Linked DNA regions of Homo sapiens. The protein of the gene in region 1 purifies or fractionates together with the protein of each later gene. This does not show direct contact. Each region holds a gene or a part of one and is shown on either strand. Other genes may lie near its edges.

Region 1 (7,032 bases):
TCTAAGTCCCTCAACAGTAATGATGGGATCTAAAGTTGGTTTTGAGGCTGCTAAGAAAGAATAAATACAGGCTGAGTATCCCTCATCTGAAATGCTTGGGCACAAGCATGTTTTGGATTTCAGATGTTTTCGGCTTTTGGAATATTTGCATTTTACTTATTGGCTGAGTATCCCAAACCCAGAAATACAAAATCCGAAATGCTGCAAATGAGCATTTCCTTTGAGCGTTATGTCAGTGCTGAAAAAGTTTCAGATTTTGGAGTGTTTTTGATTTTGGATTTTCAGATTTGGATTGCTCAACCCATATCTAAATTTTAAAATAACTACTCAACTTTAGTTTCTTTTGCTAATTTATTATTATGAGTAATATCATGTTCAATAAAGAGAAATGTTCAATGAATGCCCTAAACTAAAAAAGACTTAGATATCTCTTGAGAAAAAAGAAGTTATACTGCAAATTTAAACAAATAAATACTATCTTTCACCTACTGGAACTGGCAAACATTAAAAGTTTAGCCAGGCGTGGTGGTGCACGCCTCTTAATCCCAGAACTTTGGGAGGCTGAGGTGGGTGGATTTTGAGCCTGGGAGGTGGTGGCTGCAGTGAGCCAAAAAAAAAGTTTGATAAAGCTCAGTAAATGTATGGGGAAATGGGCATTTTCATGGGCATTTCAATGGGTACTTTTTTTTTTTTTTGAGACAGGGTCTTGCTCTGTCACCCAGGCTGGAATGTTAGTGGTGTGATCTCGGCTCACTGCAACCTCCGCCTCCCGGGTTCAAGCAATTCTCCTGCCTCAGCCTCCAGAGAAGCTGGGATTACAGGCATGCGCCATCACGCCCGGCTGATTTTTGTATTTTTGTACAGATGGGGTTTCATCATGTTGGCCAGGCTGGTCTCGAACTCCTGACCTCAGATGATCCACCTGTCTCGGCCTCCCAAAGTACTGGGATTACAGGCATGAGCCACCATGCCCGGCCTTATTACAGTTTCTTGGAGGATAATTTGGCAATCCTGATTAAAATTTTGAATGAATATGCCCTTTGATGTAGAAACTCCAGGAATTTATCACATTTTCACATGTACACAAATTTGTAGAATTGTAGCACTGTTTAAAGTAACAAAAGGTCAGGCATGATGGCTCATGCCTGTAATCCCAGCACTTTTGGAAGGAGAGGCTGGAGGATCACTTGAGCCCAACAGTTCAAGACCAGCCCAGGAAACATGGCGAGACCCTATCTCTATTACTTTTTAAAAATGTTTTAATTAAAAAATAAATAAATAAAATAGCAACAAAAAGGTAGAAACAACCAAAATGTCCATCAACAGGAGAATGGTTTAACAAATTATCACATAATTATATAATGGATGTAATGAAATAAAATAGGGTAAATCTACATGTACTGTCATGGAAAGATGTCCAAGACATACTGGTAAGTGTGGCAAAAATGGAAAACTCATAATAGTACGAGTCCATTTTACTTTTTTAAAAAACTAAGAAAATGCTTAAATCTGCAGAGATCTTTCTGAAAGTATTCACAAAAGACAACAGTGGTTACTCTGGGAAGTGAAATTGCAGGCCATAGGCAGGTGGGGGAACTTTCATACTTTACACCCTTAAGTACTATTTGATTTTCTTCCCAATCATATTTTTAAAATTTTAAAAGCTCATCAGCCTGATCCGGTGGCTCACCCTGTAATCCCAGCACTTTGTGAGGCCAAGGCAGGTGGATCGCCTGAGGTCAGGAGTTCGAGATCAGCCTGGCCAACATGGCAAAACCCCGTCTGTAATAAAAATACAAAAATATTAGCTGGGCATGGTGGCATGTTATTTGGGAGGCTGAGGCACGAGAATCATTTGAACCTAGGAGGCAGAGGTTGCAGTGAGCAAAGATTGCACCACTGCACTCCAGCCTGGGCAACAAAGCGAGACTGTACCTCAAATAAATAAACAAACAAGCAAACAAATAAATATAAAAATTTAAAAGCTCATTAAAAGCTTTTTAGATTATAAAACCAGATCAATATGTGATAGTAAGAAGTCACTGTTAACATCTTTTTAAATATGAAAATGGCATTATGGTCAGGCTGCAAAAAGGAAAGAATCCTGATCTCTTAGAGATACATACTAAGATATTTAGGAATGAAATGTTGATTCCTGGGATTTGTTTCTAAATAATCCAATTGTAAGAATGGGGAAGGTTGGGGAAAAGTACTGAGGATTTAGATAAAATGAGACTGTCAGGAGTTAATGTCAAAGTGAGGTGGAAGGTACATGGGAATTCATCATGTTATTTATTACGGGAATTTTAAAATATCTCTTCACCTTTGTGAGAAGTTTAAAAACAAAAACCAGATGGAAAACATTGAACCTTTCAGATACCCTGGGAAATTTATAAAACTGATAGCTTGATTAGGAAGTGATAAAATGTTTTTATGTGGCATTTATTTCTAGCACACACACAAGTGTCATCACAGAAGTGTTAAACAGAGTAGCTCCAGAGAGGCCTGCGAGCCATGCCCAGTGGAAGCAGGAGCGTCTCCTGGGCTCACACCTGCTTGGCTCTGGTCTGACTAGCAACTTTTGTACTGTTCTCACAACAGTACCTTTTATTTTCAAAGTAGAGGCAGACAACTTCTCTCCTTCAGGTTTCATCGTTGGGGGCTTGTTATGAACAAGTTTCCACCATCCTGGCTCTCCAAATTCCTGAGCACCTGAACGGAAGTACATGGGACTTCCCACGCTGAGGCAACCTGCCACGGTGCTCCACCAGGTAGACGTCTTTTTCCTAAAGAGTCCAAGAATTTAAAAATGATTGGCACTTTTGCTCATTATACAGAAAAGACAGTCTGTGTATACTGTGACTCCTGGCCTGCAACATGCAATGGCACCTCCAGCTACTGAAGGAGCAGAGCACGAGAGGCAGGAGAGAGGCTCTGGAGTTCGCCTGCTTCAAACCCTGGCGCTACCAACTTCTAGCAGCCTCGGTTTGTTCATCTGTAAAATCAGGATAATAGAACTTACCTCACAGGGTTGCTGTGAGGATTAAATGCAATAATTCAAACAAAGCACGTGAAATACTTCTCATCACAATCATCACGATTATGGAATTCTACAGGCTAATTTTAATTAAGTTGCTTTGTTATGTGAATTAAGCACAGCTCCCAAGAATAAAGCATACAAAAAGTGTAACTCCAAGGCTGGGCATTTTGTGATAGAAGTTAACTGGCTCCAGTAAATACCTCATTTTACCCGAGGAGTAGCACACATCTCTCAATCTGATCCTATCTGCCTCGATGCACTAGAGTGGTAACAAAACTATGTGGTATACTCCACAAACACAGAGAGCACCTACTGCACAACAAAATAACAAAACATGCAAAATGCCAACTATCCGGGTTCCCTAACGGAAATTCTTTCAAGGCGACTGTTCTATTTCCACCTTGAAAAGATACATCAATCCCCGGAAATCCTAGAAGACAGTCTTTCACAAGAAGACCAGTCTAACAGTTGGAAGGTATTGCTGGGAAGGCAAAGGAAAACCATTCTGAGGAACAGAGACGTAATATTAATAGAAAACTCAGAAAATAAACAAAACAAATAAGCTCAGCTATAGTAGGCATAAGCACTATCTGAGGCTGGGTGCGGTGGCTCACGCCTGTAATTCCAGCACTTTGGGAGGCCGAGGCGGGTGGATCACCTGAGGTCAGGAGTTCGAGACCAGTTTGGCTGACAGGGTGAAACCCCGTCTCTACTAAAAATACAAAATTAGCTGGGTGTGGTGGCACATGCCTGTAATCCCAGCTACTCGGGAGGGTGAGGCAGGAGAATCTTTGAACCCGAGAGGCGGAGGCTGCAGTGAGCCAAGACTGCACCATTGCACTCCAGCCCGGGCAACAAGAATGAAACTGGGTCTCAAAAAAAGCACTATCTGAGATGGAGAGAATGAAACCCCCAAGCTTTTGGTTCCAAAGTACCTCTCCTACATTCTTATCTTTTTCTAATCTTTCCAAATCCTCTCTAATAAATACAAAATGTAGCATAAACACATACAATAGAATATTATTCAGTCTTAAAAATAAAGGAAATCCTATCACATACTGCAATGTGGATAACCCTTGAGGACACTTATGCTAAGTGAAATAAGCCAGTCCCAAAAAGACAAATACTGTATGGTTCTACATATATGAAGTATTTAGAGTAGTCAAATTCATAGACACAGAAAGTAGAATGGTGACTGCCTAGAGCTGTGGGGAGGGGAGAATGGAGAGTTATTTAATAGGGATAGAGTTTCAGATCTGCAAGCTGAGAAGAGTTCTGGCCATCTGTGAATCTATATTCAAATACGTGAACATACTTAACACCACTGAACTGTACACTTGGAACTGGTTAAGATGGTAAATTTTCACTGTTTTTACTGCAATAAACAAACAGAAGTCTGGGCAACATAGTGAGACCTCATTTTTACAAAAAAATAAAAATAAAAAAATTAGCTGGGTGTGATGGCACGTGCCTGTGGTCCCAGCTACTTGGGAGGTTGAGGTGGGAGGATCACTTGTGCCTGGGAGGTAGTGGCTGCAGTGAGCCATTACTGTGCCATTGCACTCCAGCCTGGGTGACAGGGTGAAACCCTATCTCAAACAAACAAAAACAATAAAAAAGACTGACAAAGACTCAAAAGATTTTAAAAACCAATGTGTTATTTACTGTGTCGAAAACGGGTGCGTACTTGTACATTGACAGTGGGACTATAAATGGGCATATACTTTCTGGAGGTTACTTTCATAATGTACAGCAAAATTGTGTGTATCCTCTGACCTCGCAAATCTACTTCTAATCACAAAAACACAAAGGATATATATACAAGAATATGCCCCACAAGGCTAACTTAAACACAGAAAAACTGGAAATAACATAAATGTTTATAAAATTATCGGCCAGTGTTACAGATTTCATCGTATCCTCCCAAAAGATGTTGGAAGTCCCAGTACTTGTGAATGTGACCTTATGTGCAAACAGTGATCATGAGGTCATTAAGTTGAACACTAATCCAATATGACTGGTGTCCTTACACAAAGGGGAAACTTGGACACAGAGACAGACGTGTAGAGAGGGAAGATGCATGAAGACACAGGGAGAACGTCATCTACAAGCCAAGGAAGGCCTGTGGCTAACAGAAGCTAGGGGAGAGGCATAAAATACTCTCTCCCTCACAGCCTTCAAAAGGAACCAATCCTATCAACACCTGGATTTCAGATTTCCAGCCTCTAGAACTAGAATACATTTCTGTTGTTTAAGCCATCCAGTTTGTGTTACAGCATCATTAGCAAACTAATATAGCCAGCTAAATCACAGCACAACACATAATGAGACATTTGTATGGAATGGAATAAATTTGTTGCCAGGACATATACAAACACAGTATTTATGAATGGCCTCAATAGTTTTCCCCCAAAATTATTATTGTGGTAAAATATACATAACATTTACTATCTGAACAATTTTTAACAGTATAGTTCAGTGGTATTAAGTACATTTATATGGTACAATCACCACCACCATCCACTTTCAGAACACTTTTCACAGGGCAAAACCGAAACTCTATATCCGTTAAACAACTCCCAATTCCACCCTCCCCGCCAAGTGCTGACAACCACCATTCTACGTTCTGTATCTGTGATTTTCACTACCCTAAGTATCTCAGATAAGTGGAATCACACAGTGTTTGTTTTCTTGTGATTGGTTTGTTTCACACAGCATAATGTCCTCAAGGTTCATCTACACTGCAGCATGTGCCAGAATGTCCTTCCTTTTTAAGACTGAATGATATCCACTGTATGTATATGCCACATTTTGCTTATCCATTCATCTACTGATGGACACTTTGGTTGCTTCCACATCTCAGTTATTGTGAATAATGCTGCTAAAAACATGGATATACAAGTATCTCTGAGACCCTGCTTTCAGTCCTTTTGAGTATATACCCAGAAGTGAAATTGCCAGATCATATGATCATTATATTTTTAACTATTTGAGGAAACACCACACCATTTTCCACAACGATTGTACAATTTTACATTCCCACCAACACTGCAAAAGGGTTCCCATTTCTCCACATTCTCGCCCACAGTTGTTGTTTTGTTTCTTTGATAATTGTCATCCTAAGAGGCATGAGGTGGTATCGTGTTATAGATTTGATTTGCATTTCCCTAATGATTAGTGATGCTGAGCATCTTTTGATGTGCTTATTGGCCATTTTAATATCTTTGAAGAAGTGTCTATTAAATGCCTTTACCCATTTTTGCAATGAGGGGAGCTATAACAACAATGGCTGCCATCTCTTTTCACCTCTATGATTAGAAGCAGCAATCAGTGATCAGAGCACAAATACCCAGTATTTGGAAAACAGGCTTATTTTTGCCCACCCTGGATGCTACAAGCTGTGTGTAAGCCACTCCAGGAACACACACACAGCTTTCTTCCTAGTGGCTGGAGAAGGGGGATGGGTAGCACCAAAAAAACCCCCACCTTTTTACATTTAAACTTTAATAACATATTAAAGGCATAAAAGAAAAACCTGTAAACATCTGAAAGAAAATTCAGAACTTCATTACACTGTATAGCATTCTCTTAGATCTTGTGACAAATGAGAAATGGTTACAATTTTTAAGAATTTAAAGTATGTCCTGGCCAGGTGCAGTGGTTCACGCCTATAATCTCAGCATTTTGGGAGGCCAGGCGGGTGGATCACCTGAGGTCAGGAGTTCAAGACCAGCCTGACCAATAAGGTGAAACCCTGTCCCTACGAAAAATACAAAAATTAGTCGTGCATGGTGGGGTGTGCTAACCTAAATAATTTTATGTACCATTGTAGAAACAAGTTAAAAAGTATATGAAAACTTAGTTATTACTGAATAATTGCCTAGTATTTGTTCATTTAATCTGCTTTTACAGTCCTGGCCTTGAATTCTTCCAGAAGGTATAGTTTTGATTAGTGAAGAATAGCTTGAATATTTTCTTCTACTACCATATTT
Region 2 (7,032 bases), on another chromosome or scaffold:
AGATGAGCCTGGATTTTCCTTGTTAAAAATGGGTATTAAGCTATTAAACACTATTAGAGTCTTATCAAAAGAACTTATAAGCCAACTTAAATAGGCTACAACAAACCAAAGATGGGCCACTTTGAACACTAACAAAGGCAGTAACATCAATGAATTGAAATACATTAAATACATTTAGGGCCAATAGTTCATAAGAATACAAAAAATTTTTAAACCTCATTGGTCATCTTTGAAGGATATGAGAAAATGAACTCATTATTTTAAAAACCAGAAAACAGGCCAGGCATGGTGGCTCACGCCTATAATCTCAGCACTTTGGGAGGCCGAGGCAGGCAGATCACGAGGTCAGGACATCGAGAATATCCTGGCCAACATAGTGAACCCCCGCCTCTACTGAAAATACAAAAACTAGCCGGGCATGGTGGCACATGCCTGTAGTCTCAGCTACTCAGGTGCCTGAGGCAGGAGAATCACTTGAACCTGGGAGGCAGAGGCTGCAGTGAGCCGAGATTGCACCACTGCACTCCTGCCTGGGCGACAGAGCGAGACTCTGCCTAAAAAAGAAAGAAAAAGAAAAAAAAGGGAGAATTGAGCAATTATCCCACCTTTTCTATATGTACCTCAGAGTAACCAAATAGTTGACTAGGGGGCAGGGGGATTACTTTTAGAATAGTCCAGCAAGTAAATGAAGAAATGATAGCATAATCACTATTCTGTAACATCTAATGAATTAATCAATTTAGTCAATGATCAGTGGCTGTTATGCCAAAAAAAGAGACAACCAGGCTGATGAAAGTAAACGTGAAGTAGTCCTGCCCACCCTAACAAACAAATACATCTGAATCTCATCAATGCTCTTGACCTACTATGAATTTACAGGAAGTTCAGAAAACAGAGGAACAGATTAAATGACAAGAAGATGTAATCAATAAAATCCATACTGCAAAATTCTATAAGACAAATGAACCAGTTCTTCAACAAAAACATTGGGAGAGGGAAAAAAGGAAAGTGAAAGAGGGAGAATGAACCTATTGTGATTTATGGGCTTTATTTGGATCCAAACCCAAATGAAGAAATTAGAAAAAAAATCATGAACAGTGACTATATATTTCACTGTATAACAAATTACCTTTTATAAACATGATAATTATATTGTGTAATATCTGGGACTTGCTCCAAAATAATCCAGAGCAGAGTTGAGGTGGGTAGGGAGTAGAGATTAAAATAAGGTAGCTTCATGTTGATAATTGTTAAGGTTCATTATACTATTCTATTTTTGTATATGTTTGAAATTTTCCTCACAAAAGTACATTACTTAAAAACTATACATTTGACTTGTTCATTAAAAGAAACCAACATTCTCTGAAGAGTGGAAATAATTAGAAAATCCTACTCTCTTCTATACCTTGATGTATATAACAACTTGATGTGTATAACTTACTGATGCATCTTCAACAGCAGTGTTCATGTGGCTATGAAAACAAGATCGGTCATCATCTTCATCCATATACACTGGCGGTTCATGTGAAGTCATGAAAGTGGAAGGCTTAAAGAGATGCTTATTAAGAGGGTGCTGTCGTCTGCTTGTTGAAGACTAAGTAAGAAAACAAATTTTTAATTGGTTCAGTGAAAAATCATTACAAGAATCAAAAATATAAAAATACAAATGTTACTTCCAACAAGTCTATCAGAAGAATTTCACTCTATCCTTTAGCATACTCTTATGTTGTTGCTTTTTCTGTTTTCTGCGTTTTTAAAGCATAACTAGCTTTAAAAAATTTTTTTTAAATGTAGGGGAAATACCCCAACAACGGTAAAATGGACCACATGTTTAATATCTAGCTTATATTTGTATCCCCAGCATTTATCATACTCTTGGCAGTCAAATGCTGGCTGCACTGAATTCTTATGATCATCTTATAGAAGATCAGACAGGATGAAGTGGCCTATGCCAGACATAAAACTATCCAGTAAAAAGTAAAAGGAAAATTTCTATAACATTATGAATATCTGAAAATACTTATCTAACATTGATTGACTGCTTATTCTATGCCAGGGTTGTCCAATCTTTGGCTTCCCCGGGCTACATTGGAAGAATTGTCTTGGGCCACACATAAAATACACTCACACTAAAAAAAAAAACAAAAAAACAACAAAAAAAAAATTTCTTGTAATGTTTTAAGAAAGTTTACCAATTTGTGTTGGGCCACATTCAAAGCTGTCGTGGGCCACATGTGGTACGTGGGTCATGGGTTGGACAAGCTTGCTCTATGCCAATGTCATTTAATCCTTACAACATTCCTATAACGTAGTTATCATCACCTCTAATTTAAAAATGAGAAAACTGAGGACAGGGAGGTTAAGTTTCTTGTTCAGTGTGTTGCAGCTAGATAGTGGTAGAACCAGGATTATAAACTAGGCCTATGTGGTGCCCAAATTCTCACTTTCCACCACTATGCAGCCTGCCTGTCTTGATCAATAGCACAGTCACAAAGAACACCCTCAGCTACATGAAGAACCATCATTTCACCTGTTTCCAAATTTAAACTCTAACAATGGCAAGCAATCATTGTAAATATAGCTGTACTAGATCTTCACAGCCAAAATACAGTACACCTAAGGGAAAAAAACACATGTACGTTCTCCAGTATTCCTTTTGTTATCATTATCCAGTGTTAATGATGAAAACATGGTTACATCTATAAAATTAGCTTAGAAATTAACCATGAAAATAAGAGCTCTTACATTAAACACAGGTTAATGTAAGGTTCCAATATTCCACAGTTATAGGATGAACTCTACAAATCTACACAGGTTGTGCTATATTTGGTGGGAAACCCAAAATATTTAAAACAATTGGCAAATTAAAACAAGCTTCCAAAGCTCGGTTAAAAAAAATTTTTTTTTAATGTGTAAAACATGAAACTGTATAGACAATATTCTTAATGTAAAATTACATGAAATAGCTTCAGTATGGAAGGATAACAGCACTAGATATACTCTTAGCTTCTCTTTATGAGAAAGATGTCAGTGGTGGGGAGGGAAAAGTAACAGGATAACTTATTAAGAAAATTTAAAACAGCCAATTAGGTGTCTTTATTTTTTGCGATTACAAGAACGAACAGCTGGGACTGCAGGTGCGTGCCACCACACCCGGCTAATTTTTGTATTCTTAGTAGAGACGGGGTTTCACCATATTGGCCAGGCTGGTCTTGAACTCCTGACCTCGTGATCCACCCGCCTCGGCCTCCCAAAGTGCTGGGATTACAGGCGTGAGCCACCGTGCCCGGCCGAAACTGGCTACATTTTAATGTAGTGTCCTGTTTGGGAAAGAAACAGTAGCTTCTCCACTGTAGAAAGCAACAGAGAAAAGTGGAAAAAGTGTGGCATCAGAATGGGAGAGAATCAGTGGTTCCCAGACTTAGCAGCTAAGCAACTAGATAATTCACTCAACATACCTGAGGGCCCAGTTTCCTTACCAAATAAAAGGTTATAGAACAGTAGAGTCTGGCTCAGAGCCCTCAATATAACAGCTAGCTATTAATATTATGTCAGTAAAGTGAAGATGATAAGACTACTTATATTTCAAGAATTGTAGAAAGGATTAAATACAATATTTTATTTTTTTAAAGATACGGGACCTCACTATGTTGCCTAAGTTGGACTCAAACTCCTGGCCTCAAGTGTTCCTCGTGCCTCAGCCTCCCAAGTAGCTGGGACAACAGGTGCACACCACTGTGCCTGGCTTTAGAATATCATAATAAACCTTTCTATTCTTGGATTTATGTAGCATTATCTACAAAACAGAAATTGATCTATTAAATTTATTAAATGATTGATTTATTAAATAATCAAATATCCTAAAAACTTTACCCTCACAAAGGCCTTTCTAACATATTTTGAATCTAAAATCTTTCAAGTAGCACTCATTCACATTACTCCAAAGAAAATAATGAAGAATCATGAATTTCACTGAGCAGCAATAATGGAGTCCTTACCCTCCACTTTTGCACAATATAAGGAAATGCTTAGAATGAACAGAAGTTTTAAAATACAACACTATTCTGTCAAATGTGTAGATTTTTACATAGCAATTCTTACTTTAATAAATTTAATCTACAGTTTACTTTCATGTATTTTCTTTTACCTTTTTGGAGTATATATATAAGTTTGGTGTTCTGCCTGGTACTGGAATGCCAGCTTTAGTTAGCTTTATGAAATACTTCTGTACTCGGCTGGCAACCTAAGGAAACATGACAAGTCTCTTAACACAATGAGATGACATACAATACCTGAGTCGTTTTTAAAAATTAAAACGTACATGAGTATCTAATGAATGCTAAGAATTCAATACTCATCATGAATCTAGAATTAACAATAAACTGCCACCAAATACACATATATTTTAAAATCTAGGCCAAACAAAAATTATTCAAGTAAATTTAAATTTGATTCTAAAGCTAAACACATATTTCAACTTGTGAACACTTACATTTGTAGTATAAAAACACATCTATTAATATAGATGGGAATATGAAGGAGTAAACTGCAAGATACATTTTTAGAAAGACAACCAGGAAACACTAAGGCAATGAAACAAATCTGTTTGCTCAGTATAACCAAAAAGTATACAATTAGTATATTTAGTAAGCATTCAAGAGAAATTAAGTCCATTATATGTTCATTTTTTAATATTTCGTAATGATCCAAAGCAGAAGTATCTCAAGTTGTTTCTGAAATCAACGAAAATATATACAATTTTTTTAAAAAAACACCACATACTACAGCACTCTGTAGCTGAAAGTGTTATGGCAGATCGCCCAATGTCAGCTGCATTATTCTCCTTTATTAAAAAACTACCAAAAGCATACCAGCAATCTGCAGTCATCTCCTCAATTACCTGTTTTGCTGTCCTGTTGCCCAATTCATCTGCTATCTTCTGCCAGCGTCGAGATTCTACTTCTTCAGGAGGGTATTTGATGAGTAGCTGTTCCAGCTTTTTCTAAGCCATACCCAAGACCAAATTTAAGAAAATATGTATTTAATTTTAAATATTGGATTTCTAAATAAATACATTCACATTTCATTTCAAAATGTAATACTCTCTCCCACCTTTGGGGGTTACGTAATTAGAAATCCTCATGGTAGGAAAAATTTCTAGTTAGAAACTTAAGACTTCACAGGGAACAATGAAATTAGAGAATAAACTTATGAAAGAGCTTAGAAAAGTTTTCTATTCACATAAGTAAAAATATCTCATAAGAAAACAGAAAATAAGTAAACAAATTGGTAGATTACACATTTTAGTGATTTCCACTGAAATCACTAAATCCACTGAAATCCAAGAAAAGATGGTCAATCTTTTCTTACTTTTCTTTCCCCTACAGTTTTAACAAAAACGTGTAAATTCACTTAAATTTCGACTATTAAAAGAGGCTTTTCCTTCTTTTGTATGGTCCTTTATTCAAATATTTGATTTTAATATTCCTTCTTGTCTCCTGTATCTTCTCATAGTCCTAAAGATGCAGAAAAATCTGGATGCTTGAAATAAATAGATTTCCCAAAGCTTTTTATAAACTGTTAAATGTATAGCTGTGGGGTTAATAGCCATATGAGACAAAGATGTGCCTCAAACTTCACCCACTAACAACCCTAGCCATTAGCCAAAAAACAATTCTAAACTGTATGCCAAAACTGACTTGACTTCCTCACCTCCCTTCGACAACAAAAATAAGAATGCACTTTGAAGCTCAGCTTTACTGGCCTCAGGTTTTTCTCTCTCCCAAAGCTACATTACAAAAACATCTATTTTATTCTATCCACTTCTACTCCCCTCTCAAAACCCAGGTTCCTTCTTTTAAAATTATCCCCAAACAAAAGTTTACACATTCTCAAAATCCAAAATTCTTGACGTATGCAAAAAGGTATACAAAAATAAGCCTAAATATTTAAAACTCATGGCTAACAGGCATCACATACAACAATATACACCTGACTCAAAATACAGGCTCTTTTCTTTTTGAGATGGAGTCTCACTCTGTTGCCCAGCCTGGAGTGCAGTGGCATGATCCTGGCTCAATGCAACCTCTGCCTCCTGGGTTCAAGCAATTCTCCTGCCTCAGCCTCCCGAGTAGCTGGGATTATATATGCACACGCCATCACACCCGGCTAATTTTTGTATTTTTAGTAGGGTTTCACCATGTTGGCCAGGTTGGTCTTGAACTCCTGACTTCAAGTGATCCACCCATATCAGCCTCCCAAAGTGCTGGGATTACAGGCGTGAGCCACTGGACCTGGCCTCATAATACTGACTCTGATGTTAACTGTTTACTTGTTTTTTTAAGCCTACACGATTTTGAAATATTTATTACCTGTTCTTCAACAGTCCACAACTGGTTAAATGTTTCAGGTTTGGTATCATCACACAAGCGTCCTCTTATCATCTGCACATAAGACAAGGCTTTTGTCAGAGAGAAAATAACAACACCTATCCTTTGATATAGCCAAATAACACGCAAATTGTGGAATTTTTAAATTAATTTCAAAATATTTGAGTAAATTTGTTTTTTAATGTATATGCTTTTTTTTTAACTGTTTACAAAATGCCTTCACATTATTTTATTTTGTTTGGTTTTATACTCTCAGCAATCCTGTGAAATACATAATAGTACTGTAACTTCATTTTTTAAAAAAGGGAAAGGAAATGTGGGCTCAGAATTGAAAAGTAACATGTCCACTGAGGTTCATCTAACTAAGAGTGGCAAGGCCAGGACTCAAATCCTGGTCACATTTCACTACACACAAAGGAACTACTATTTTTAGAGTAAATACTATGTGTCGGATACTGTACTAGGCACATTGCATATACTACCTATTTAACCCTCACCAACAACCCTACAAGATAGGTAATATCAACTACATTTTATACAAAAGGAAACTGCAGCTTAGAGACTTCAACGTAAATGATGTCTGAAGGTTCACGGCTAGTAAGTTAGGACTCCAACCTAAGTTTCTCTTAATTTCAAAGTTCTT

What was found. The genes of interacting proteins can lie anywhere in the genome.
Region 2: the proteins of KAT14 (region 1) and ZZZ3 purify together in Homo sapiens (affinity purification with mass spectrometry; 4 studies listed by BioGRID and IntAct, with this or other methods). This does not show direct contact.

The regions. Positions count from the first base shown.
Region 1 is NC_000020.11:18,154,838-18,161,869, reverse strand, and holds part of KAT14 (cysteine-rich protein 2-binding protein), read right to left. Parts: intron 2,787-7,032; coding exon 2,605-2,786; intron 51-2,604; coding exon of another isoform or gene 48-50; coding exon 1-47. UniProt on the Homo sapiens protein: Component of the ATAC complex, a complex with histone acetyltransferase activity on histones H3 and H4. May function as a scaffold for the ATAC complex to promote ATAC complex stability. Has also weak histone acetyltransferase activity toward histone H4.
Region 2 is NC_000001.11:77,574,627-77,581,658, forward strand, and holds part of ZZZ3 (ZZ-type zinc finger-containing protein 3), read right to left. Parts: intron 6,444-7,032; coding exon 6,372-6,443; intron 5,003-6,371; coding exon 4,901-5,002; intron 4,244-4,900; coding exon 4,148-4,243; intron 1,595-4,147; coding exon 1,442-1,594; intron 1-1,441.